Linked DNA regions of Homo sapiens. The protein of the gene in region 3 interacts with the protein of the main gene of each other region in a pairwise test. Each region holds a gene or a part of one and is shown on either strand. Other genes may lie near its edges.

Region 1 (7,892 bases), on a different chromosome or scaffold from region 3:
TGGGCTTGGGTGGCGCTGGGAGATGATTAGGGGCCTGTAGTGCCTGGCACAGGGCTGCCCCAACAGTGGTGGTTGCTGGCGCATTCTTATATCAGCCCCGCCCCTGGCGAGTCCCACCCATCTGCTGCCTGTGGGGTGCCCTTGCGGAACTTTGGGGCCCTGAGGGTGGGCAGGGAGCCGCCTTGTCCCTGGAGACAGGGGCTTCCTGTAGAGCTCCAGGGACCAGCTATGGGAAACTCCCAACCTCTGACTCAGCATGGGATGGGGCTGGGGGAGGGGGAGGGGTCTGGGATAGCGGCTGCCCCTCCCCCAGCTCTGCCCCCAGCCAGGCAGGCTTTGTGTTCTCTGAGCTCTGTGTCCTCCGGTCCCCTCTGCCTCAGGCAGCTGCATGTTTGCCTCTGACCTCCTCAGGGCTTTAGATTGCTGCCCTGGGGCGGGAAGCTCCGGCCTCCTCCCCCAGCTGGGCCCCCGACAGCTCCTGGCATTCACAGTGAACTGTCTGGGGAATCATCGCTATTTGGGGTAAGCGGCTGGTGGGCGGCTCTCCCAGACCTTTCTCAGAACCTGCAGTCACCCATATGAGCTGCTGACCGGCCTGGCCGGCCTGGGCACGTACGCATGTCGTGGCCCTGCTCATCCAGCAACCGAGGCCTCCCATGACCTGCTGGGTCCTCGTCCACGGGGACTGCAGCTCCATCTGCTGGGGATTCTCAAGGGCAAGCAGCTGTCAGGACACTCTCCCTGCAGGAAGCGTGGCTCCTGCGTGGGTGGCAGGCCCAGTCGGGCCCCGTGAGCAGAGGAGGAGGGACTCCCGCCCACCTCCACGCTGGGTAAGGGAGTCCTCCGAAGGACAGAGCTCTTGGGCTGGGAGGACCTCCTGTGGCGGCGGCCTGGAGACACGGATGTGGTCTCGGGTTGGGTGCTCTGAGGGTCTGCAGGATGGACGAGGCTCCAGCCACCGCCTCACACAGCAGGTGACCATCGTGGGTCCAGCCAAGCCCAGCCTTGGTGGCCGTGGCCGCCCATGGGGGCAGAATCCTGGCAGCCCTGGCCTAGCTCTGACCAAGTGTTAACTCCCTTCATCCTGATCACCCTGGACCAAGGCCTGGGTCATGGGGAGGTGAGGGGCTGGTAGCCCCTTCCAGGGAGTCTGCCAAGAGCCCACAGCTGGCCCCCCCCCGGCCTTGACTGTTCCCTCAGAACGGGGTGGGGGACCTAGTGAAAGTAAACAGTTCATGAACCCAGCTGGGAGCTTGACCAGCAGAGCTGCCTCGGATTTGGGACTCATCCTTGGAAGGGGTGGCCCCAGGCATCGCCCCTCTTTGCTCTTGTGCCTGTCCCCTGAGTCTCCGTCCTTGAGTTTCTTCCCAGGGGCAAGCTGGTGCGGCAGCGGGGGCCCGGGCCTGTGTGGAGGCCCAGTCGTTTTAGCTGGAAGGAGCTTGAAGGGCGAAGGGCACCAACTGGACAGGGCACCAGGACAGGAGGTCCAAATGGGCCCGCCTTTGGGGACAGTCCCTGGGGCTGCCCCTGGACAACAGAGGGACGGCACCAGTGCGTGGGATCGTGGCAGGGGGCTCTGTAAGGAGCCCCAGGCCTCTGACCACTTCCCACCCGCCCTCCCTGCTGTCCAGCATCCCAGGTCCGGGTCCCGCCCCAAGTGCTTGCTGTGTGCTGCCTCTGGGAGCTGAGCTCAGCTCCTGCCACGTCCATGTATGTGTGAGTGTGCATGCAGATGCATGTCTGTGTGTGCACACGTGGGGCCCGACCACCAGGCCCGTGGCACCCTCCTCACCCCTCCTTGCCTTCAGGTTCTTCGAGGACCTGGAGCAGCGGCACAAGGCCCAGGTGCTGGTCGAGGACATCAGTGACATCCTGGAGGAGCACGCTGAGAAGCACTTCCACCCCTACATCGCCTACTGCTCCAACGAGGTCTACCAACAGCGCACGCTGCAGAAGCTGATGTGAGTGGGCGGCCCCGAGGCCCGCAGGGTGGCTCAGGAGCATCCTGCACCCTGGTCTCCCAAAGCACATTCCTGCTCCCAGCCCAGCTTCTGCAGGTCCTGCCTGATTTTGGTACAGGCTGGCCATGCAGAGCCTGGAAGGACAGCCTTGTCCTCTTGCAGAAGCAGCAACGCCGCCTTCCGAGAGGCCCTGAGAGAGATTGAGAGGCGGCCGGCGTGCGGGGGCCTGCCCATGCTCTCCTTCCTGATCCTCCCCATGCAGCGGGTGACCCGGCTGCCCCTCCTGATGGATGTAAGTCCACGGCCTGAGGGTGGGGCCGGGCATACCATCCTGGGGTCCCACGGCCAGAGCCCTGCCCCGGATGGAGCATTACGTGCTTGTGACCTTCTCCTCCAGGCTTGGCCTATGATATTGTAATAGTTACGATCCTAAGATGGCTTTATTAACCAGGATAACTTTGTGGTCGCCGCCACCCACAGAGCTCACTGTGCCGGGAACTGTTCCAGCCCTTGGCGGATTTGTGTTCACTTACTCAATGGTTCATGAGGTTCAGGCACACTGACGAGTTGGAACTGGCATCACCCAGAGCCCTGCTGAGCCTCCTCCCAGCCCCCACCCCACCAGTCCTCCTAGACGTGGTAGCCCTGTCCCTGGCACCTACTCTCCCTGTTCTGTGGACGCAGAGAGGGGCTCAGAGAGGCTCACCAGCATGGGCTGTGTGTGTGGGATGCCAGCCCACAGGGCAGAGGGTATATGAGGGTGAAAGGTGTACACACACACGCACACATGTATATACAGTGTACACGCACTCAGGCACGTATGTGCCCATGTGCACACAATGCATATGTATGGATGCACGCCAGTACACACATGCATGCACACTTGCACACACTGCATTGCACCGATGCATGCACATGTGCACACAATGCACACGTTTGCATACATGCACACACAGGCACTGCACACACATGCACCCGGTGCACACACATACACGTGGATGCACACACATGCATGCACATGGTGCACAGGCATATTCACACATGTGCATGCTGCCCATACACACAGCCCCGCACATGGCAGGACTGAGCTAAGCTTCCTGAGGCTACACATGGCAGGGTTGCCCAAGCCAAACAGAACCTCAAACTCCTGGGGGCCCCAGGGATGTGCAGAAATGGGGCTGCCAGGGGGCCTCCACTGACGATTCCCCAAGTTGGATGGAGATGGCCGAGGATGGGAAGGGAAGGGTTCCAGGCAGGGGTGCTAGCTCCTGTTCCCACTCAACCTGGCCTGACCTGGCAGAGCTCCAGGTGGTGCAGAGGCCGTTCAGGGGCTGTACGTGCTGTGGGGCCCTGCAGGAGCCCCCTGGGGGCAGCTGTTGACCACCCTGCAGCCCCACACGGGGTCTGGCGTTGGTGGGAGCCTCCACACCTGGGATGCCAGAGGGGACTTTCTGTCCCATGTCTGTTGTCCATCCAGACGCTCTGCCTCAAGACCCAGGGCCACTCCGAAAGGTACAAGGCTGCCAGCCGTGCACTGAAGGCCATCAGCAAGGTAAGATGGGGCCTGGCCCCAGCCCTACCCGAGTCCTGTACCCCGACCCTGTCCCCACCCAACCCCACCCTACCCGATGGCATAGGGCTGGCTTCCCCTACCTTCCAGGGCAGCGAGTGTTCTCAGATTATCCATCCCAAGCCTTTCACAGCGCTGACAGGGAAACTGAGGCCCAGAGGTTCCCAGATTATCCATCCCAAGCCTTTCACAGCGCTGACAGGGAAACTGAGGCCCAGAGGTTCCCAGATTATCCATCCCAAGCCTTTCACAGCGCTGACAGGGAAACTGAGGCCCAGAGGTTCCCAGATTATCCATCCCAGGCCTTTCACGGCGCTGACAGGGAAACTGAGGCCCAGAGGTTCCCAGATTATCCATCCCAGGCCTTTCACGGCGCTGACAGGGAAACTGAGGCCCAGAGGTTCCCAGATTATCCATCCCAGGCCTTTCACGGCGCTGACAGGGAAACTGAGGCCCAGAGGTTCCCAGATTATCCATCCCAGGCCTTTCACGGCGCTGACAGGGAAACTGAGGCCCAGAGGTTCCCAGATTATCCATCCCAGGCCTTTCACGGCGCTGACAGGGAAACTGAGGCCCAGAGGTTCCCAGATTATCCATCCCAGGCCTTTCACAGCGCTGACAGGGAAACTGAGGCCCAGAGGTTCCCAGATTATCCATCCCAGGCCTTTCACAGCGCTGACAGGGAAACTGAGGCCCAGAGGTTCCCAGATTATCCATCCCAGGCCTTTCACAGCGCTGACAGGGAAACTGAGGCCCAGAGGTTCCCAGATTATCCATCCCAGGCCTTTCACAGCGCTGACAGGGAAACTGAGGCCCAGAGGTTCCCAGATTATCCATCCCAGGCCTTTCACAGCGCTGACAGGGAAACTGAGGCCCAGAGGTTCCCAGATTATCCATCCCAGGCCTTTCACAGCGCTGACAGGGAAACTGAGGCCCAGAGGTTCCCAGATTATCCATCCCAAGCCTTTCACAGTGCTGACAGGGAAACTGAGGCCTAGAGCCAGTGGAGCTCTCACACAGTTGATGAGCCCGTGGCACGGCTGGTCCAGGGCAGGCACTGTGGGCAGCCAGAGGCTGGCTGGGCAGGTGTCCTGGGCACACTGTGGGCCGTGTGGGCTGTGCCAGGGCCCTGTAGCACCAGCCTCTCACACGGGAACCATGCCCTGCAGCTGGTGAGGCAGTGCAACGAGGGGGCCCACAGGATGGAGCGCATGGAGCAGATGTACACGCTGCACACACAGCTGGACTTCAGCAAGGTCAAGGTAGGTGGCCCCGGACATCAGGGCCACTCGGACCACTTCCCACTCAGCCCTCCCTGCTGGCCTGCGTGTGAGGTCACACCCCTGAGCCTGAGGGCTGGAGAGTGGGTGCCTGCCCTCATGAGGCCTGGGGGCTGGGCCTCCTAGGGCTGGTGGCTCTGGTCTCTCCAGGCCTCAGTCTCCCGATCTGGGAGCGCCCCTTGTGGACCCCTCCCCTAATCCCACTGGGTGGGCCTCTGTGGCCCTTGCCCCATCCCCAGGACTGCACCGGCAAAGGGTAGACCCTAGGCCCTGAGTGACCAAGCCCAGGGGGCAACAGGAGTGGCCCTGTCAGTGCACTTGCCTGGGGCCAGCGCTCCTTGCTGGCCCCTCAGGGGCTGGGCAGGGCCTGAGGACAGAGCGGAGGGGACAGGGTGATTTCAGGGCCAGCCCAGATTCCATGTTTCCCAGTGAGGCTTGGATTCTGGGTAGGGTGAAATATTTCCAGCCCAGGCCCGGGCAGCCCTAGTCCCTGCCACAAACGGGCAGGGCTCATACCTCTCCCTCCAGAGCCCCCCACCCACGATCCCACACACTGGCCGCATCCTCTGTTGTCCTGGGACAGCCCAGGGCCCCTCCCCTAAGGCGGGCCCAGGTGGGTCTCCTGTCCTGGTGCCCCATCCAGGGGGTGTCCTTCAGGGTGGAGCAAGAAGTGGGTGACAGGCCACCAGCCACCCTCACTCAGGGCCACGGACAACCAAGTAAGGGTGCGGGGTCCCAGCTGGGGGAGGGGGCTCCCGGGGTGGGTCAGGGCGGGCTGCCTGGGGCAGGCGTCAGGGCGGTGACTTCGCGCCGCTGTCGCTGAGCCCACACCCGTGCAGCCCTCACGCTTGTCTCCCTGATCCTCTCGAGTCTGGGGTGTAACGCCTGCCCCTGCCAGAGCAAGGACCCCCTCCCAGGCCTGGTCCACCCCTGAGTGGGGCTCTCACCCCCACATGGTCTTGAAGTTGGTCTTGGAAACGGGTGTGGGGGTGGGGAGAACAGGCCCATCCAGGAGGGAGGGTGGTGGCAGAGGCCGGGAGCGGGAGGTGCCGGGGGCTCTGAGTCTGTAGTGGGCACAGGTGGGGAAGCCGGGGCCCACAGGGAGCAGGTGAGGAGGTGTCAACAGTCGCTGAGGAGCGGGAGCTGGTGGGCAGGCTCCTCATTCCCACTCTGCCCTCCCCCCCACCCTGTACTGCCACCCCCTACTGCGACACCCATCCCCGTCACCCCCACACTACCCACCCCATCACCCCCACACTGCCCACCCTCTGGCCTTTGCCATCCTTCTGCCCCCCACTGACTCCAGCAACTCAGCACCAGGCAGCAGGGAGGATGTTCTGTGGCTCAGGAGCCAGGAAAGGCCCCAGACGTGGAGCGTGGCCATCACGGGTGGGCCTGCCCCTGCCAACCCTCCCTCGGGGCTGAGCAGGTCCTTGTGCCTAGGAGGCCCAGCGTCTGCGTAATTGCCACGGAGGGGTGAGGTGTGTGTGGAGGCTTCCCCAGCACTGGCCTTCGAGTCCTGGCTTGGGTGAAATGTTCAGTGGTCACCCAGCCCTGGGCTATCGGGCAGGGTCTGGTCCGGCCTGGCGCACCTCGATTTGAGGCCCGGACACATTGTGCCCCTTTCCTCTGTCCAGCCCCGACTGAGGGCAGCCAGCTGGTCACCCAGTCCAGAGGCAGGAGTCAGTCCCACCTGGTGCTATGCGTCCTTGACCCCCTGGGGACCTGCTCACCCCGGCTCTGTCCCCCCCAGTCCCTCGCACTGATCTCCGCCTCCCGGCTCTGTCCCCCCAGTCCCTCCCACTGATCTCTGCCTCCCGGTGGCTGCTGAAGCGCGGAGAGCTGTTCTTAGTGGAAGAAACCGGACTTTTTCGAAAAATTGCCAGCCGGCCAACGTGCTACCTTTTCCTGTTCAACGATGTCCTGGTTGTGACCAAGAAGAAGAGGTGGCCTTAGGGCAGGAGGGTGTGGGGAGCCCCACTCCATGGACACTGGACCGCTGGCCCTGGGGCAGGAGGGTACAGGGAGTTGGCCCTGAGCCCCTCTGACCTCAGAGCCGAGGCGCGGCTTCCACTCGGCACATGCTCTACGTGACACTCGGGGGCAGGTGGCGCTCGCTGTGCAGCCTCTGACCTCCTCTGCAGACCTGGGTCTGCCGGTGATAGCCACGAGGAGGACTCGAAAGCCATGGCCTCTGTTCTGTGGGACGCGGGAACTCTTGGAGCCCGTCCGTGGCTGCCTCCCCACCACTGCAGGGGAGCCGGGTGGGACCTGGACGGGAGCCCAGCAGCACTGGGTAGGAGCTGGGTGGGACCGTCCCACCGACTGCCCGTGTCTCCACAGCGAGGAGAGCTACATGGTCCAGGACTACGCCCAGATGAACCACATCCAGGTGGAGAAGATAGAGCCGTCTGAGCTCCCTCTGCCCGGGGGCGGCAACCGTAGCTCCTCCGTGCCCCACCCCTTCCAGGTGACCCTGCTTCGCAACAGCGAGGGCCGCCAGGAGCAGCTCCTGCTCTCCTCGGACTCCGCGTAAGTGGGCTCCCGGGAGGGCTGTTCCCAGGCCACAGGCACATTAGCTCCATGGGGACCGGGTTGTCCCCCTGCCTTGCTCGCTGTTGCATGGCTGGCTCTGAACGCCCACCGTGCACCTGGCCCTGCTGTAGGTGCTGAGGTAGAGCCAGAAACAACAGAAATGGCCTTGTCCTCATGGAGTTTATGTTCCCGGGAGGGGACGCACCAACAGTTGGGCCACCAGGAGTGGGAACAAGGGAGGAAACGAGGTGGGGGGTGGGGTGCGGGGGGTGCCGTGAGGAAAGCTTAGCCCATGTGAGCAGAGGGAGGTGGGGCCGGAGTGTGGGGTTGCTCAGCAGAGGCCCCGAGGCAGGAGAGCCCTGAGGCCCCGAGGGCACAGCTGCAGGTGGACAGCAGTGATGCTGGGGTGCAGCGACCCTGGCCGGTAGGGGCCAGTTCAGACAGCAGGGTGGTCCTGGCACTCAGAATGGGAGGGGGCACTGATGGAGTCTCTGCGGGCCCCCCGTGGAAGCCAGGCACACAGGTGCGCCAGTCTCCATATTCCCT
Region 2 (8,147 bases), on a different chromosome or scaffold from region 3:
TTTGTATTTTTAATAGAGACAGGTTTTCGCCATGTTGGCCAGGCTGGTCTCGAACTCCTGACTTCAAGCGATCCACCCACTTCGGCCTCCCAAAGTGCTAGGATTACAGGCATGAGCCACCACACCTGGCCTGCCTTGGGCTTTGAATGTAAGGATGCAAGGAATGTTCAAGTTGCTGCCACCATTTGTGACCAGAAGGAGCCAACAGTGCAAACACACAATGTGGCAAGTGAGAGGTTGGCACCAGGGCCCTTGTGAGATCAGTGGGCCCCTGGCCTGGCCCCTGTGCTGCTGACCACTGGCCTTCTTGCTGTAAGAAAAATACCAAACCCCTAATATTTAAACCACTTGGGGTTGGTTTTTGTCGTGTTTTTTTTTGTTTTTTTTTTTTTGTTTTTTTGAGACAGTGTCTGCTCTGTTGCTCAGGCTACAGTGCAGTGGCACAGTCCTAGCTCACTGCAGCCTCAACCTCCTGGGTTCAAGCGATCCACCTCAGCCTCCTGAGCAGTTGGGACCACAGGCACGTACCACCACACCCAGGTAATTTTTGAAGTTTTTTGTAGAGACAGGGTCTTCCTATGTTGCCCAGGCTGGTCTCAAACTCCTGGGCTCAAGCGATCCTCCAGCCTCGGCCTCCCAAAGTGCTGGGATTACAGGTGTGAGCCACTGCACCCAGCCAATGGATCATTTTAATACATCTCCCACCCCAAACTGTTTTCTCTTCCCCAAGCCCCCAAGCTCCCTCTGTCACTTTGGCAGCAACTAGACTTGGTGGGAGGGGAAGCTTGATATCCACGGCCCGTAGTATGTAGGGTCCAGCCCTATGGGGCTTAGCGGGTGTTCTCCCCGTGTGCGGAGATGAGAGATAGTAATAAATAAAGACACAAGACAAAGAGATAAAGAGAAAACAGTTGGGCCCGGGGGACCACTACCATCAAGATGCAGAGACCGGTAGTGGCCCTGAACCGGCTGGAAGTGCTGATATTTATTGCATAGGAGACAAGGGGGCAGGGTAAGGAGGGTGAATCTTCTAAGTGATTGACAAGGTGAAGCAAGTCACATGATCGTAGGACAGGGGGCCCTTCCCTCTTAGGTAGCCGAAACAGAGAGAGAGAAGGCAGCATACGTCAGCGTTTTCTTCTATGCATTCATAAGAAAGACCAAATACTTTAAGACTTTCAGTATTTCTTCTATCGCTGTCTACTACGAACTTCAAAGAGGAACCAGGAGTAGAGGAGGAACATGAAAGTGAACAGGGAGCATGACTATTGAAGCACAGCCCCACAGGGAGGGGTTTAGGCCTCCGGATGACTGCGGGCAGGCCTGGGTAATATCCAGCCTTCCACAAGAAGCTGCTGGAGCAGAGTGTTCCCTGACTCCTCCAAGGAAAGGAGACTCCCTTTCGTGGTCTGCTAAGTAACGGGTGCCTTCCCAGACACTGGCGTTACCGCTTGACCAAGGAGCCCTCAAGTAGCCCTTATGTGGGCGTGACAGAAGGCTACCTCTTGCCTTCTAGGTCACTTCTCACAATGTCTCTTGAGCACCTGACCCTATACCTGCCAGTTATTCCTAGGTTATATTAGTAATTAAAAGCTAATGATTAATAATGTTTATAATAATGATTGATAATTGTCCATGATCATCTCTACATCTAATTTGTATTATGACTATTCTTATTCCATTTTCTTTATTATACTGAAACAGTTTGTGCCTTCAGTCTCTTGCCTCGGCACCTAGGTAATCCTCCGCCCACAGGAGTGAGAGGGTCATTTTCAGCAAAAGACACAGAAAAGGCTTTGAGGCTCCAAAAACTTAAGACTTGAGGGGAGTAAAGGATTAGAGGCAAAAAAAATAAAACTTGATGAGTCAGAGAAAGGCCTTCCAGCCCCAAGGCTAGAACAGGCTCCTGGGCCAAGGAGGAGAAAAACCGGAGGAGGCTTGTGCTTTGAGGTATTTCAAGATGTTTCAGGCACATCTCATACTTTTCCTGCCCCAAGCGTTTCAGTCATTTCATCAGCTGTTTCTCTAAGGAGCTCTGGTTCCTTTTAGTTGATAACGCTTTTTTTTTTTTTTAAAGAGATGGGGTCTCGCTGTGTTGCCCAGGTTGGAGTGCAGTGGTGCAATTTCTGCTCACCGCAACCTCCGCCTCCCAGTTTCAAGCGATTCTCCTGCCTCAGCCTCCTGAGTAGCTGGATTACAGGTGCGTGTGCTACCACTCCCAGGTAATTTTTGTATTTTTAGTAGAGACGGGGTTTTACCATGTTGGCCAGGCTGGTCTTGAACTCCTGACCTCAAGTGATCCACCCGCCTCGGCCTCCCAAAGTGCTAGAATTACACACATGAGCCACTGCACCTGGCAAGAATGCATTTTTAGAACCAGATCTGGATGCTCGTTGTGGTGATTACTACTGAAGCGTTAATTGTGTTTAGGTCATTTTGGCAGACAAAGCTAGGAAACTCACAAATACACACACATACATGTATGTCTATTTACATATCTTTCCATTTATTTATGTTAAAACCCATGAGTTTACTCTAATATCTCCCACTCTCCTCCAACGCTACAGGGTTCCTTCTACTCATCACCCTGTAAAACCAGAAAATCTAAGACAGGTCTCAGTTAATTTGGAGAGTTTATTTTGCCAAGATTGAGGACGCACGCCTGTGACACAGCCTCAGGAGGTCCTGACGTCATGTGCCCAAGGTGGTCGGGGCACAGCTTGGTTTTATACATTTTAGGGAGACACGAGACATCAATCAATATATGTAAGAAGTACATTGGTTTTGTCTAGAAAGGTGGCGACAACTCGAAGCAGGGAGGGGGCTCCGGGTCACAGGAAGGTGAAAGACAAATGGTCCTATTCTTTGAGTTTCTGATAAGCCTTTCCCCTGTAATCTCAGCTACTCAGCAGGCTGAGGCAGGAAGTGGAAGTTGCATGAGCTGAGATTGAGCCACTGCACTCCAGTCTGGGTGACAGAGCGAGACCCCATCTCATAAAAAAAGAATGCCTTCACCATCTGGGAATGCAGTCCAGTAGGTCTCAGTCTTATTTTACTCAGCCGCTATTCAAGATGGAGTTGCTCTGGTTCAAACATCTCTGACACTTCGACACTTCTACCCCCTAAACATCTCTGAAGATCACCCACTCCTCTCCGCAGTCATGACCTCTACCCAAGGTCATGCAACCATCACCTCCTGCCTGGACACCTGCAACAGCCTGCCAAATTCTGCCTGCCCAAACCCTTGATTCCAACACAGGTCCTCTAGACCAGCGCTTCTGAACCTTCAGCTGCCTAGAAATCGCCTGCAGAGTTTGTAGAAACACAGAAACTCTGGGCCCCAGTCCCAGAAATCTAATTCTCATTCAGAAGGTCCCAGGTCAACTGAGAATTTTTACTTTTTTTTTTTATTTGAGATGGAGTCTTGCTCTGTCACCCAGGCTGAAGTGCAGTGGCGCAGTCTCTGCTCACTGCAATCTGTGCCTCCCAAGTTCAAGCTATTCTCCCACCTCAGCCTCCTGAGTAGCTGGAATTACAGATGCCCGCCACCACGCCCGGCTAATTTTTGTATTTTTAGTAGAGATGGGGTTTTGTCCTGTTAGCCAGGCTGGTCTCAAACTCCTGTCCTCAAGTGACCCGCCCACCTCAGCCTCCCAAAGTGCTGGGATTACAGGTGTGAGCCACTGCGCCCCGGCCTAATTTTTGCATTTCTCACAAGCTTCCCTAGGGCATCTCCTAGAGGAAACCAAGATGTTACGGAGGCTGACGCTGCGTATCTTCAGGTCACACTTCCAGCCGCAAGACTCTCTCTGCTGTCCAATACAGTAGCCACTAGCCACATGTGGCTATTTAACTTATTAAAATAAAATTTGCCAGTACGGTTTTTTAAAATAAAATTATTAAAATAAAATTTGCCAGGAGGCAGAGGTGGGAGAATCGCTTGAGACTAGGAGTTTAAGACCAGCCTGGACAACATTTTTTGTCTCTACAAAAACTACGAAGATAAAAATAAATAGATAAAAATTTAAAAAGCCGGGCAAGGTGGCATGCACCTGTAGTCCCAGCTACTCAGCTACTCAGAAGGCTGAGGCAGGAGGCTGGCTTGAGCTTGAGTTCAAGGCTGCAGTGAGCTATGGTCAAGCCACTGCACTCCAGCCTGGGCGACAGAGTGAGACCCTGTCTCATAAAACAAAACAAAAATAAAACAAAATAAGTAAATATAAATACAAAGTAAAAATGAAAGCTAATCCTAGGTCCCTCTCCTGCCCATAAGAATTCAGAGACTCCCCAGTGCCTACAAACCTCATGCTTTCAGGAAGCATAAAGGACTTCAGGAGGCAGGAGGGCAGTTGGAGGGGGATGGTGGAGGTGCTGCTACCTGACGGTGGAGGGGGAGGCCGGGGCCAGACCACCGAGAAGCCCCTAAACCCGCACAGCAGGAAAACATCTCCGCAGTCCCTGCTCTACCAAGGCTGGAGGAGGGCCACAAGCCTTGAGCTCATTGGCTGGCGGGGGGGGGGGGGGCGGGCAGACTGCCAGCGCCTTCCTTTGACTGGCTATTTTCTCTCAGCGGAAAACCAATCATTGCGGGCAGGCGGTGAGGGTGTGGCCAGGGTCGCAACACAGGCCCCGCCCCGAGTCCTGTTGCCCACACGCCCGAGGCGCGCTGGATTGGCGGTGAGTTCTGACTCCGGCCTCCTTCGAGACCGTTTCGCTCCGGATGTCGCCCACCTCCGACCCTCTCTCAGTCGGAGGGCGGAAAAGAGGAAGATAGGTCCTTCCTCCAGCCGCGGGGCACCCCCTTCTCCCACCTTGCCCTTCCCCCAGCCCTGCAGCCCCAGAGTGTAAATATCCAAGCCCGCCCTCTCTGCGCTCAGTGTCCCCATCTGGGATAGGGGCCGGGATAGGGGTCGCGCTGGCAGGAGGCCTGGCAGCCTCCTCTGAAGGGGGAGGAGGGAAGGGGGAAAGGAGGGGATGGGCGATTGAGGTGGACCTCGAGACAGGGCAACGGTGTCCCCACAGGAGCATGGCCCAGGAGGAGGGTGGGAGCCTGCCCGAGGTGCGGGCGCGGGTCAGGGCCGCGCATGGCATCCCCGACCTGGCCCAAAAGCTCCATTTCTATGACCGCTGGGCTCCGGACTACGACCAGGTAAACTCATTTGGGGCCTTGCCTCCACTAGACCAGCCTCCATTTTTCTACCTGTAAAGTGGGGAATCAGCCTTGCACCCGGGGGCGGCTGTGAGGACGAAGTGAGGCCTGGCTAAGAACCCTACAGTCCTGCCCCTTCCAGAACCCGCCCCACAGCTCTGGATTGGCAGCCCCATCAGGGGCCATGACCTCCTGAGGGGGGCTGCCTGGAGGAGGTGCTATTGAGAAGTCACTGTGGGGCCGGGCGCGGTGGCTCACAAGCCGTAATCCTAAGCCCTTTGGGAGGCCGAGGCGGGCGGATCACCTGAGGTCAGGAGTTCGAGACCAGCCTGGCCAGCATGGTGCAACCCTGACTCTACTAAAAATACAAAAATTAGCCAGGCCCACGTGGTGGCAGGCGCCTGGTAATCCCAGCTACCCTGGAGGCTGATGCAGGAGAATTGCCTGAATCCGGGACACAGAGGTTGCAGTGAGCCAAGATCTCTTCACTGCACTCCAGCCCGAGTGACAGAGGGAGACTCTGTCTCAAAAAAAAAAAAAAAAAAAGTCATGTGGACTCAGCAGAGAGAGCCGCTTGGCCAGGAGAGAAGGTCCCTGGAGGGCTGAGTCTACTGTACAGTGGGCTGGGGGCTAACTCTCCAGTCCTGGCCCTTTAGCAATGGGAAGCACCTCATGCCTGGGCGTCCCCTCACGCTAGCCCCAGCCAGGCTTGATCCCCAACACACACAGCTTAGCCTGGCAGACTCTGAGACCACCCCATAAGGGAGATCCCCCAAACACTGGGGCACCGGTGTTGTAGGCCCGGCACTCTTTCCCCAGGATGTGGCCACCCTGCTGTACCGTGCGCCCCGCCTCGCAGTGGACTGCCTCACACAAGCCCTTCCAGGCCCGCCCCACAGTGCCCTGATCCTGGACGTGGCCTGTGGCACAGGCCTAGTGGCTGCCGAGGTGAGGCTCTTCCAGATCCCCTGCCTACTCCTTAGCCCCGCACTTCCTCAAATCTCCTACTGCCCCTGGCCCCAGAACCCTGCCCCACACCTCAGACTCACTGTTTCAAATGCATGAGACAGGACCAGGCATACTGTGGCTCACACTATGGGAGGCCGAGGCAGGAGGACAGCTTGGGGCCAGGAGTTTGAGGTCAGCCTGGGCAACATAGCAAGACCCCTGTCTCTACAAACAGATTTAAAAATTAGCCAGGCAGGGTGGTGCACGCCTGTAGTCCCAGCTACATGGGAGGCTGAGGTGGGAGGATCACTTGAGCCCGGAAGTTCAAGGCTGCAGTGAGCTATGATCACGCCACTGCACTCCAGTTTGGGCGACAGAGAGAGACCTTGTCTCAAAAATTTAAAAAAAGCAAATGCATGGGCCACATTCAGTGCAGAGTCCACTGCCCTGCCAAGGTGCAGGGACCCAGCCGGGAAGTGGCAGGTGTGAACCATGACTGAGTCTCCCACCCCTACCCCAGCTGCGGGCTCCAGGCTTCCTCCAGCTGCATGGGGTGGATGGGAGCCCAGGGATGCTGGAACAGGCCCAGGCCCCCGGCCTCTATCAGCGCCTCAGCCTCTGCACCCTGGGCCAGGAGCCTCTGCCCAGCCCGGAAGGTACTTTCTCTCCCACCTCCACACCCCGAGGCCCACCCTCATGAAGCCCTTTCCCTTGCTGATCCTCCATCCCTCTCCCACACTAAGCTCCCAGTCCCTCACTCAACCCTGCACCCCACGATCTGACTGCAGCCCAGAACTGGGCCATACTTACCTTATCCTCTAGGGGACCTGGGTCCTGCAGATGCGGGTAGTAGCCTCGTCCCACCCCTAGGGTGGTCTGAGGCCACACCATAGACAAAGTACCTTCCAAGCATCACACCATGTCCCCACCCCCCCCCACACACACACAGGGACCTTCGACGCGGTGCTGATAGTCGGTGCCCTCAGTGACGGCCAGGTGCCCTGCAATGCGATACCTGAGCTACATGTCACCAAGCCAGGTGAGGAGCAGCCCAGCCAACCACCCCCAACCCCCGTCACCATATACCTTCCCCTGTGCATAGTGCAGACACAGGCCCCAGAGCCCCTCAGGCTAAGCGAGGGGCAGCGTCCTGCCCAGCGTCACACACAGCCTAGCCTAACATCCCAGCCACCAACAGCAGACCCAGGCAAACAGGCCGGGCAGACAGGTGGCCAGCTCGGCTCTTATCCATGGACAACCAGGAGCAACTCCACCCTCCTCTGCAGCCTCCTTTTCCCAGTCTGGGAGTCAGGTGGTATAAATGCTACAATCCAGTCCCCGTAGGACTGCAGTGAGAATCAGGTGAAATCCTGTCTCTAAGGTTTTTGCTTTGGTCCTGACCCACAGTGAGGGCTCAGTTCTGTTCCTTCCTCTCACTGCTTCCTCACTCATTCATAGACTGCCTTTGGAGCATCTCTTTCTCTTTCCTGGTCTCAGTCTTCTCATCTGGGAAATGGGGCTGCTCAGGGGAGATGAGAGCTGTGAGCACCGTTTGTAAACTTTGCACATTGCGCTGCCCGGGCAGGTGTGTTTCCCGTCTCCTGCTGTGTTCTTGCTCAGCGCTTTGTTCTGCTCTGGGCAGAGGGCTCAGACCCTGCCCTCTGGGCCTTGATCTCCAACCCACTGGGGCCCAGGAAGGGGCCAGAGAGCACAGGGCCTGGTCAGAGGTGGCCCCACGAGAGCCGTGAGTGCTCACTGCTCCCAGAATTTATTTATTTATTTAATTTGAGACAGAGTCTTGCTCTGTCACCAAGGCTGGAGTACAGTGGCACAATCTCAGTTCACTGCAACCTTCACCTCCCAGGTTCAAGAGATTCTCCTGCCTCAGGCTCCCAAGTAGCTGGGATTACAGGAGCCCACCACCACACCCAGCTAATTTTTGTATTTTTAATAGAGATGGGGTTTCATCATGTTGGCCAGGCTGGTCTTGAACTCCTGACCTCAAGTGATCGCCCGCCTTGGCCTCTCACAGTGCTGGGATTATAGGCAT
Region 3 (8,347 bases):
TTGCACTCATCAAAATGTTTTTGATATCTAACTGTATGCATGTGTACATTTCTTTTAATTGCTCTATAGTCTTTCATTTGAAAACAAAACAATGGGTGTGCTCTTATGTGCAAGCGTTTCTCTGGTACACTGTAAATGAAATTGTTGTGTCATAAGGCATTTTAGATGTTGATACAAACTAATGTCCCCACAACAAAGCATGAATGCCTATTTTGCCACATACTTTTTTTTTTTACAAAGTGTTATGTAACTATTTTATTTTTCTCAGATGAATATATGAAAAATGGTATCTCATTGTGGTTTTACTTTGCATCTTTTATTATAAGTCTCTCTTTATTGAAATGGCTTTTTGAGAATGCTGTTTAATTATGCATTTATATGGAGGGACTAAAAGCAGGATCCTTGGCATAAATGTTAGATTAGAGACATGAGTGTCTCCAAGTACCCAGAGTTTGATTTTGTCTCTGATATGCATGATTCCTAGACTCTGGCAACTAGGTTTCTTTTACTTTTCTTTTTCTTCTTTTTTTTTTTTTTTTTTTTTTTTGAGAGAGTCTCACTCTGTCACCCAGGCTGGAGTGCAATGGCGTGAGATCATGGCTCACTGAAGCCTTGACCTTCTTGGGCTCAAGGGATCCTCCTGCCTCAGCCTCCCAAGTAGCTGAGACTACACGTACATGCCACTATGCCTGGCTAATTTTTTTGATTTTTATTTTTAGTAGAGACAGGGTCTCACTATATTGCCCAGGCTGGTTTTAAACTCTGGGGTCAAGTGATCATCCTGCCTTGGGCTCCCAAAGTGCTGGGATTATAGGCATGAGGAGCCACCACACTGGGCTTCGGTTTCTTTCTTTCTTTTGGAGCTGGAGTCTCGCTCTGTCACCCAGGCTGGAGTGCAGTGGCACGAACTTGGCTCACTGCAACCTCCACCTCCCAGGTTCAAGCAATTCTCCTGTCTCAGTCTCCCCAGTATCTGGAATTACAGGCGAATGTCACCATGCCCGGCTAATTGGGCCTAGGTTTCTTAAATGAGCCTAACAAAGCTACTCTTGATCAAATGAAAAGTTATATCTTCTTGCACATCTTGTGGCATTTGTATGAGTCTACTAGGGCTACCATAACAAAACACCACAGACTGGGTGGCTTAAACATCAGAAATTTATTTTCTCATAGTTCTGGAGGCTGGAAATAAAAATTTGGTAAGTTTGGTTTCTTCTGAGGGCTCTCTCCTTGGCTTGCAGAAGGCTGCCTTCTTAATGTATCTTCACATGGCCTTGCCTCTGTGTGCACCCATCTCTGGTTTCTCTCTGTGTGTCCTAATCTCCTCTTCTTATAAGGACATCAGTCATACTGAATTAGGGGCTCACCCCAATGACCTCGTTTTAACTTAATCACCTCTTTAAAGAATCCATCTCCAAATACAGTCACCTTTTGAGGTGGTTCAATATATGAATTCTGGGGGAAGGATGCAATTCAGCTCACAATTGCATTTCTCTTTCAACTTGAAATCTGACAGGTAATTTAGCAGAGAGGTAACTTAGCACTGTCTCCAGGGGATGTAAATGAAGAAAAGTGAATGATTTCAAATTACTAAGAGACAAATCCTACATGGCTAGGGAGTTAGGAACTTACCCGTTGACAGCTGATCCTTTTGTTTTTTCTGGGAGCTTGCCCTGTAAAGTGGTGGGGAACTTAGTTTTCATTATTTTATTCAATAACTATGTATTGAATGTCTAGATCAGCCTCTAGTGATACAAAATCTAGGAAGAACTGCCTTTGAGAGTAGTTTCTCTAAAGAGAGATTGGACATAGAGCATCATGGTAAGGCAAAAGCATTTTAGGGATTTCACGGATGTGAAGCTGGTAGGACAGGTTGAAGTATTTTGCTTAGCTAGTGCTAAGAATCACTCACTCAAAGGTACAAAGTAAGAAATCGTTCCTTTCTCCTTCATTATCTCTGCATAGGGTGGCAGCTTCCTATGTTCACACAAGCAAATCTTTACATTTAGCCAGTGAAGGTGAGGCTGAGCTGACTAGCTGGCTCCTGTTTGGTCCTCATGATTCCCCTTCTGTTTGGAGTTCTCTTTTTTTAGCTAGCTGCTGCCACAACAGAGCTGATTCTTGGCAAGGGACATAACTTCTCGTTGGAAATTCTCATCCAAGGAGGAATGTACACGCTTTCCTTTGTTCTTCTGAGGACATATAAGATGACTCAAATTTTCAAAATGATTTATACTAAGTACTAAAGAAGAACATGATGAAACATAGATTTTATCTAACTTGCTAACAGGGCTCATAGTCTTTGTCTCATTTCTTGTCCAGTCTGAGAATCCCGTTTTCATTCTTAGGATTTTTTCCCCCCATTCCATGTGAGGAGTTTTAGCTACACAGACTTTCAGGGAGAAAGAGCAGGTGGTAGCTAAGTTGGTTGGTTGACTCCTTCTCTTAAAATCACAGTGTAAGTCTTAACCCTTCTTCAGATGAAACATGGAAAATAACCTGTGTAGTGCAGAATCTCATATCTTTCCTTGCTACAGTCTGGGTCAAAGATATTTCCTTGCACTCCTTCTCCTTCCTTCACATATCCTCAACTTTAATATACTACCATTAAGCAGTATTTTCTTTTCTTTTTTTTCTTAGCAGTTCCTTGGAAGAAATGAGTAGTATTTTCTAGTTCAAGACTATGCTCAGTGTTCATTTAAAACCAAATTCATCTAGATGCAGAAAAGAAGGCCAGTATGTATCTACAGACATAGTAGAAGAGACCCATCTTCTTGTAAGTGAGGTAACTGGTTCAATTCAGGTTATGGCTCTGTCACTAGATATCACCTGTATTTATTGGGAGCTTAAGTACATAGATGTGCATCAGCTTCGACTTGAGAAATCACCAGAACCCCACCTCTCAAGTTCCACAGAAGTAGCTGGGAATAGGCTTTACCATAAAGAAGACTTTACTGATGGCTTCGGGATGAAGCATGAGGGAAATTACAACATAAAGAGCCTCAAGTTGCTTTCGGAGTCCATGAGCTCCATGAGCTCCAGCTTTTCCACAAGGCCAGCTTATGGGTGCCTCTCTTCCTAGCGTACAGATGACCACAGTGTAACAGGGACCAGCTTATTTCTCCTCAGTAGCAGGACTCTTGAGTGCCCCCTCACTGGGGATCCTCAGCAGATACTCTTTTCACCTTATAATAGGCCAAGGTTCACCTCCTTATCTCCTGCCTCAGGATCTGACCTCTTTTTAGTTTAAATATACTACTATAACAGTAGTATAATTCACTTCCTTCAGGGAATATTTTACCTTTGCCATATGGTTGTGGTTTTACCCCATCCCAAACCATCTTAATGACATCATAATACTATTATCTGACAGCAGTGCATCTCCCCAAATCTGTATTATTCAGTTTTAAAAAATAAGCAATGAATAACATTCTTTGGAGAGCAATTAGGAACTGTTTTTCATTTCTTCTGCAGTACTCCACTCCCTTATCCCTGCAAACAATTGCTCAAAGGTCAATACAACTGTTGGAAAATACAAATCAGAAGTGAACAGTGTAAACTTACATTATTTCACTCTCAAACAGAAGTTTCAGAGACTTATAACTGAAAAAGATCACACTACTTATGGTTGTAAAAGAACGTAGCTTCTCACCCTGAAACACCAGAATTTACTCCAGGTCCTTTAGGAGTATCTGGTGTTAAAGCAAACTAAATATGGCCTGAGAAGGACTCCATACATCTATACTTGAATCCTTGTGGATGAACTGTAACCTAGCTTAACAGACAAGATTGAAAACCTAACTTAGAAGTATGCGTCTCTTACAATAAGCGAGTCTTGGCCAATTCCAGCCGCCACACTTCAATCACTCATAGACTGCTAAGTGTTCAAATAAGGCCAACGCCAACCTGTAACCAATCCAGCTGTTTCTGTACTTCACTGCCAATTTCTGTACCTCATTTCCCTTTTTTTGTCTATAAATCTTCCACCACGTGGCTCTGCTGGAGTCTCTTAATCTGCTGTGATTCTGGGGGCTGCCCAATTCGTGAAATCGTTCACTGCTCAATTAAACTCCTTTAAATTTAATTCAGCTTAAGTTTTTCTTTTATAACTGGTAAACAACTGGAGACCAGGTAGGGTCTAAATGCTTTATTTATCAGCTTAGTCTCCACCTTAGAAGTGACAAACATTCTCCGTTTGGCCAAACTTCGGGCTCCTGGGCCTTCTCCTAGGACCATCTGTGCATCTTCTTGTAAAACTCAGTTTCAGCAAAGAACCTTGTTAAGGCAGTGTAGTGAGAATCCCTCACCCTTGATGGGGTTCCTCATCCTCCACCACCCCCAGGTGATGTCTGCTATCCTGGCCTATCTTCGTCTAGAATCCTGTTGTGTTGGTTTAGCCAGAATCTCCCTTGCCCCTGATATTTCCTCTTAGTAATTTTCCATCCACTGACCGACTTCCACCCCTTGGCTATAAATTCCTACTTACTCATACTGTATTTCTATTTGAACAGGTAAGGGAGAAGGGAAGAGTACGTAGGACACACTCAAATGCCTTATCCTCTAAAAATCACTCAGGAATCTTTAGCCTTAATTTCCCAGCTTTTGTCCTTTACACAGTTACAGATTTTCCTTGCTCATAAACGCTGTAGGTCTTCCCTGCTTAATTGGAAACTCCTTGCTCACAAAATGATTCACCCCCATTCCTAGAACCGGGCTTGGCAAAGCATAGGCTCCCAATAATGAATGAATGGATTTATAGAAGAAAAGGTTTTTTCTTTTTCAGCTGTTACTACAATGGTCAACAATAACGACAAAAACCACTTAAAGTTGGACAGACGTCTACTGCAACCAACTCTCAAAAAGTTTAGAACAGCGCACTACGCCCCGCCCATTGGCGAGAAACGGAAATACCCGCTTTCGAGAAAACCGGAAGTGCGTGGTCACGCCCCGCGCATGCGTGCATCGGGGCAGCTCACGCTTCCTAAATCCCGTCATCCAGTGAGAAAGCAGGGACTCTTCGGCCTAGGCAGCCGGGACCCAGCCAGCCCTGCGCCTCGCGCCGTCGCGCATGCGTCCTGGGTATGTCCACGCGCAATAAGGAGGGGCGAAAGGACATTTTTTTTTTTCTTGCTCCCGCCTCTGTTCTTCCCCCACCTGCCACGTACAGAGCCCAAGTTCTCGCTAGGCTTGTTGGGTCAGCGCGATTGGCCGGGGCCCGCGCGAGCCTGCGAGCGAGGTGCGGCGGTCGCGAAGGGCAACCGAGGGGGCCGTGACCACCGCCTCCCCGCGACGCCCCAGTCCAGTGGCCTCGCGTCCGCCCATTCAGCGGAGACCTGCGGAGAGGCGGCGGCCGCGGCCTCCGCAAGCCGGTATGGCCACTGGAGACGGGGGTTGCGGGCGCTCTGTCCGAGGAGGCCGGGAGACTAGGAGGCGCTGGGAGGGCCTCGTTCGAACCGCGCGGCAGCTGGGGTCGGAGGCACTGTGGGAAGGGGCTGGAGGGAGGAGGGGGTGGGAGGGAGGAGGGGGTGGGAGGGAGGACGAGGCCGGGGGGGAGGGCGGGCGGGGCCTTGCATGGGGGGAGGGGAAGGGAGGTCGCGGAGGGGGAGGGGAGAGAGGCAACCCCTGGCTGCGGTGGCCAGGAGGCGCGCCTGGGGGGCTCCGGGAGGGGAGTGCGCCAGCTAATGCCTTGGTGCAGCCTGCCTCCAAGCGTTTGGATTGAGAGGAGAGGGGCTTTGGGAGGTTTGGGGCGGCCGGCGCCCAATACCCGAAGGAGCTCGGAAGGGTGTGGAGTGGCGCCTACGGGAATAAGTTGATTGGGGTCATAGAATCGGAGCCTAGTTCCTTGGCTAAGTCAGCGCTTAATCAAGCGCCGGCTGGAGGCCCAGCCTGGTTTATAGTGATGATTCTAGCTAACTTTAAGAGTTTGCTTTGCTGGACACTACAGTAAGTATTTTGGATGCACTGTCTCATTTAATCATCACAAGGATTCCTCCAAATTCAGATATGGTTGTTTTCATTTCGAATGTGATGAAAGTGAGCCTTGGAGGACTTAAGATCACATAGCTAGTAGTGAGAATCTTTACCGTCTTGCTGCACTGCCTTTGAGGCAGGGTTTGAGGCCTCTTGGCATTCTTTAGAATAATTACAGGTTGACTTGGCTTAGTATTTCTTGAAGGAAACTGCTCCCCTCAGGAGGTGCTTAAGCCACAGCCTCTGAAATTGAGCAGGGTCTTACCCTTAGAGGTAGTAGAACCAGAAGTTTGTCCGCCGAACCTAGAACCTGGTTCAGGAGGCAGGCTTTTTATATGACCTTGGGCGTGTCAGATTATTCCCAGTGCTGAGAAAAGTGTACCTGGTAGAGGGTTATATTATACAAGTTAGAAGCCGAGTCATTTCTGGACTTCAGAGGGGGCGGGGCAAGGACAAGATGGGAGAAGAGCTTGTCGTAGGGCTCCTACTGGCAGTTCTAGGAACTAGTTAATACCAGTCTCTACTTTGGAAGAGAAAATGAGTACCAGAATTCTGTATGTGAAGTAATGTTGGGTTGGGATTTCCCCTTGAAGGGAAAGTTTTGTTGCACACTTACTTTTGAGATACTTTTGTGTTTACTCTGGGGAGATGACTGCAAGAGCAAACGACAGCTTTAGGAAAGAAGCACTGGTTCCTGGCCACAAGATGTTTACAGTCAATAGGAAACACAAAAAGTGAATTTGCAGGTAAACACGGCAGATAGAAAGTATACGTGACTCAATTTTTTTTTTTTTTTGAGACGGAGTCTGGCTCTGTCGCCCAGGCTGTAGTGCAGTGGCGTGATCCCCCAGCTCACTGCAACCTCCGCCTCCCGGGTTCAAGCGATTCTCCTGCCTCAGTCTCCTGAGTATCTGGGATTACAGGCGTGCGCCACGACAACTGGCTCATTTTTGTATTTTTAGTAGAGACAGGGTTTCACCCTGTTGATCGGTCTGGTCTTGGACTCCTGACCTCGTGATCTGCCCGCCTCGGCCTCCCAAAGTGCTGGGATTACAGGTGTGAGCCACCGTGCCCGGCCCTCAAATTTTAAATCCATTGAAATTGGGCAACAAACCCGTACCCCAGTCAGAAGGACATACCATCAATTATCTTCAAAGCTGGAATTTTTTTCTTAATTAGGAGTGTGTCTGATGGAAGTCACTTCTAGCTACATAAAGAAGGTACAGTGTGAGGGGTCGGATGTAAAAACTGATCTATATTACAGCTTTCTTCTCCCATAATTAAAAAATTTAAACAAAGTCTTTAAATTCTATATGTCAGGCACTTTTCTAGGTGCTGCTGGGAATAGATAGTACCAGCTCACTGAAGCTAAGCACTGGTTCCTTTTACATTATTGCTGGTTTACACTTCTTGTAGGAAGGAGAAGGTAACAAATACATTGATTTATTGAAAGGTCTTTATTACTCTTAGGCTGCCAGAGCAAGCAAGATGGAATATTTACCATCTTGGTGAAGTAATTATACTTTAGAGTTGGCACATAGTAGGTATTTAATAAGTAGTTCCTGAATACCGAAAGCATTGCAGAAGGCATTGCAGAAGGCGAAGAGTTGGTTGTGTGGAGATTTCTGTTAATCACTGTCTTCACGAGAAGTCCATTGTGAGAACTGGCAGATAAAAAGCTAACTGTATTCTTATTTTGCATTAAGATAAGCATGGCATCCCTAGAGTGGAATGCAGTTCACTCTGTTCTGCATTGACCTTAGAGTGTTATATTTAGTTTTAATGACCCATTTCATTGAAGATTTATTAATAAAATATCTGTTGAGAGCATGGTGAGGGGTCTAGAGATATTAATTTAAGGACTAGTTAGATGGAAGGACCTAGCGTATTTATATGAAGAATAGTAGGGCATTAATATATAATATTCATATAATAGGATTCATGAAAACTTTTTTGAAGTACTTGAAGGGTTGATATGTTGGGGGAGTAGGTGAGTGCTTTCACATACCCCGAAAGAATAAAGAATAATTGCAGAGAAGTGTGGTGTTAATGAAATAACAGATTTAAGAGGAGGAAGCAGAAAGCTGCTAGTAGTAAGGCGGGAAGTTGAAACTAGAATGTGGCCAGTAGTAGTTTGTAGGATACCTTGAAAAGTCTCAAGAGATCATTTTCTTGGGGCAGGAGGAGGAAGGAGTTATGCTTGGAAAATGTTCAGCGATTATAGATAACATTCAGGAACATCTTGGCCTTGAGAAGAAGAGATATTAATCCATTATTTTTCCCTTTATTTAATAGCTGTTGAATGACTGTTGTCTGCTAGGCACTGTTGTAGACTCTGGGAATATGGAAAACATAATCGTTTACTTCCTACCATCAA

What was found.
Region 1: the proteins of TFG (region 3) and ARHGEF16 interact in binary tests that used the Homo sapiens proteins (3 or more experiments, as listed by UniProt).
Region 2: the proteins of TFG (region 3) and METTL27 interact in binary tests that used the Homo sapiens proteins (3 or more experiments, as listed by UniProt).

Annotation. Positions count from the first base shown.
Region 1 is NC_000001.11:3,471,270-3,479,161, forward strand, and holds part of ARHGEF16 (rho guanine nucleotide exchange factor 16), read left to right. Parts: intron 1-1,808; coding exon 1,809-1,961; intron 1,962-2,123; coding exon 2,124-2,253; intron 2,254-3,438; coding exon 3,439-3,513; intron 3,514-4,700; coding exon 4,701-4,793; intron 4,794-6,605; coding exon 6,606-6,757; intron 6,758-7,154; coding exon 7,155-7,343; intron 7,344-7,892. UniProt on the Homo sapiens protein: Guanyl-nucleotide exchange factor of the RHOG GTPase stimulating the exchange of RHOG-associated GDP for GTP. May play a role in chemotactic cell migration by mediating the activation of RAC1 by EPHA2.
Region 2 is NC_000007.14:73,839,020-73,847,166, reverse strand, and holds the start of METTL27 (methyltransferase-like protein 27), read left to right. Parts: upstream 1-4,650; 5' UTR 4,651-4,677; exon of another isoform or gene 4,678-4,844; intron 4,845-5,022; 5' UTR 5,023-5,026; coding exon 5,027-5,149; intron 5,150-5,968; coding exon 5,969-6,097; intron 6,098-6,617; coding exon 6,618-6,753; intron 6,754-7,046; coding exon 7,047-7,136; intron 7,137-8,129; exon of another isoform or gene 8,130-8,147.
Region 3 is NC_000003.12:100,704,353-100,712,699, forward strand, and holds the start of TFG (protein TFG), read left to right. Parts: upstream 1-5,141; 5' UTR 5,142-5,369; exon of another isoform or gene 5,370-5,469; intron 5,470-5,573; exon of another isoform or gene 5,574-6,716; intron 6,717-8,347. UniProt on the Homo sapiens protein: Plays a role in the normal dynamic function of the endoplasmic reticulum (ER) and its associated microtubules. Required for secretory cargo traffic from the endoplasmic reticulum to the Golgi apparatus.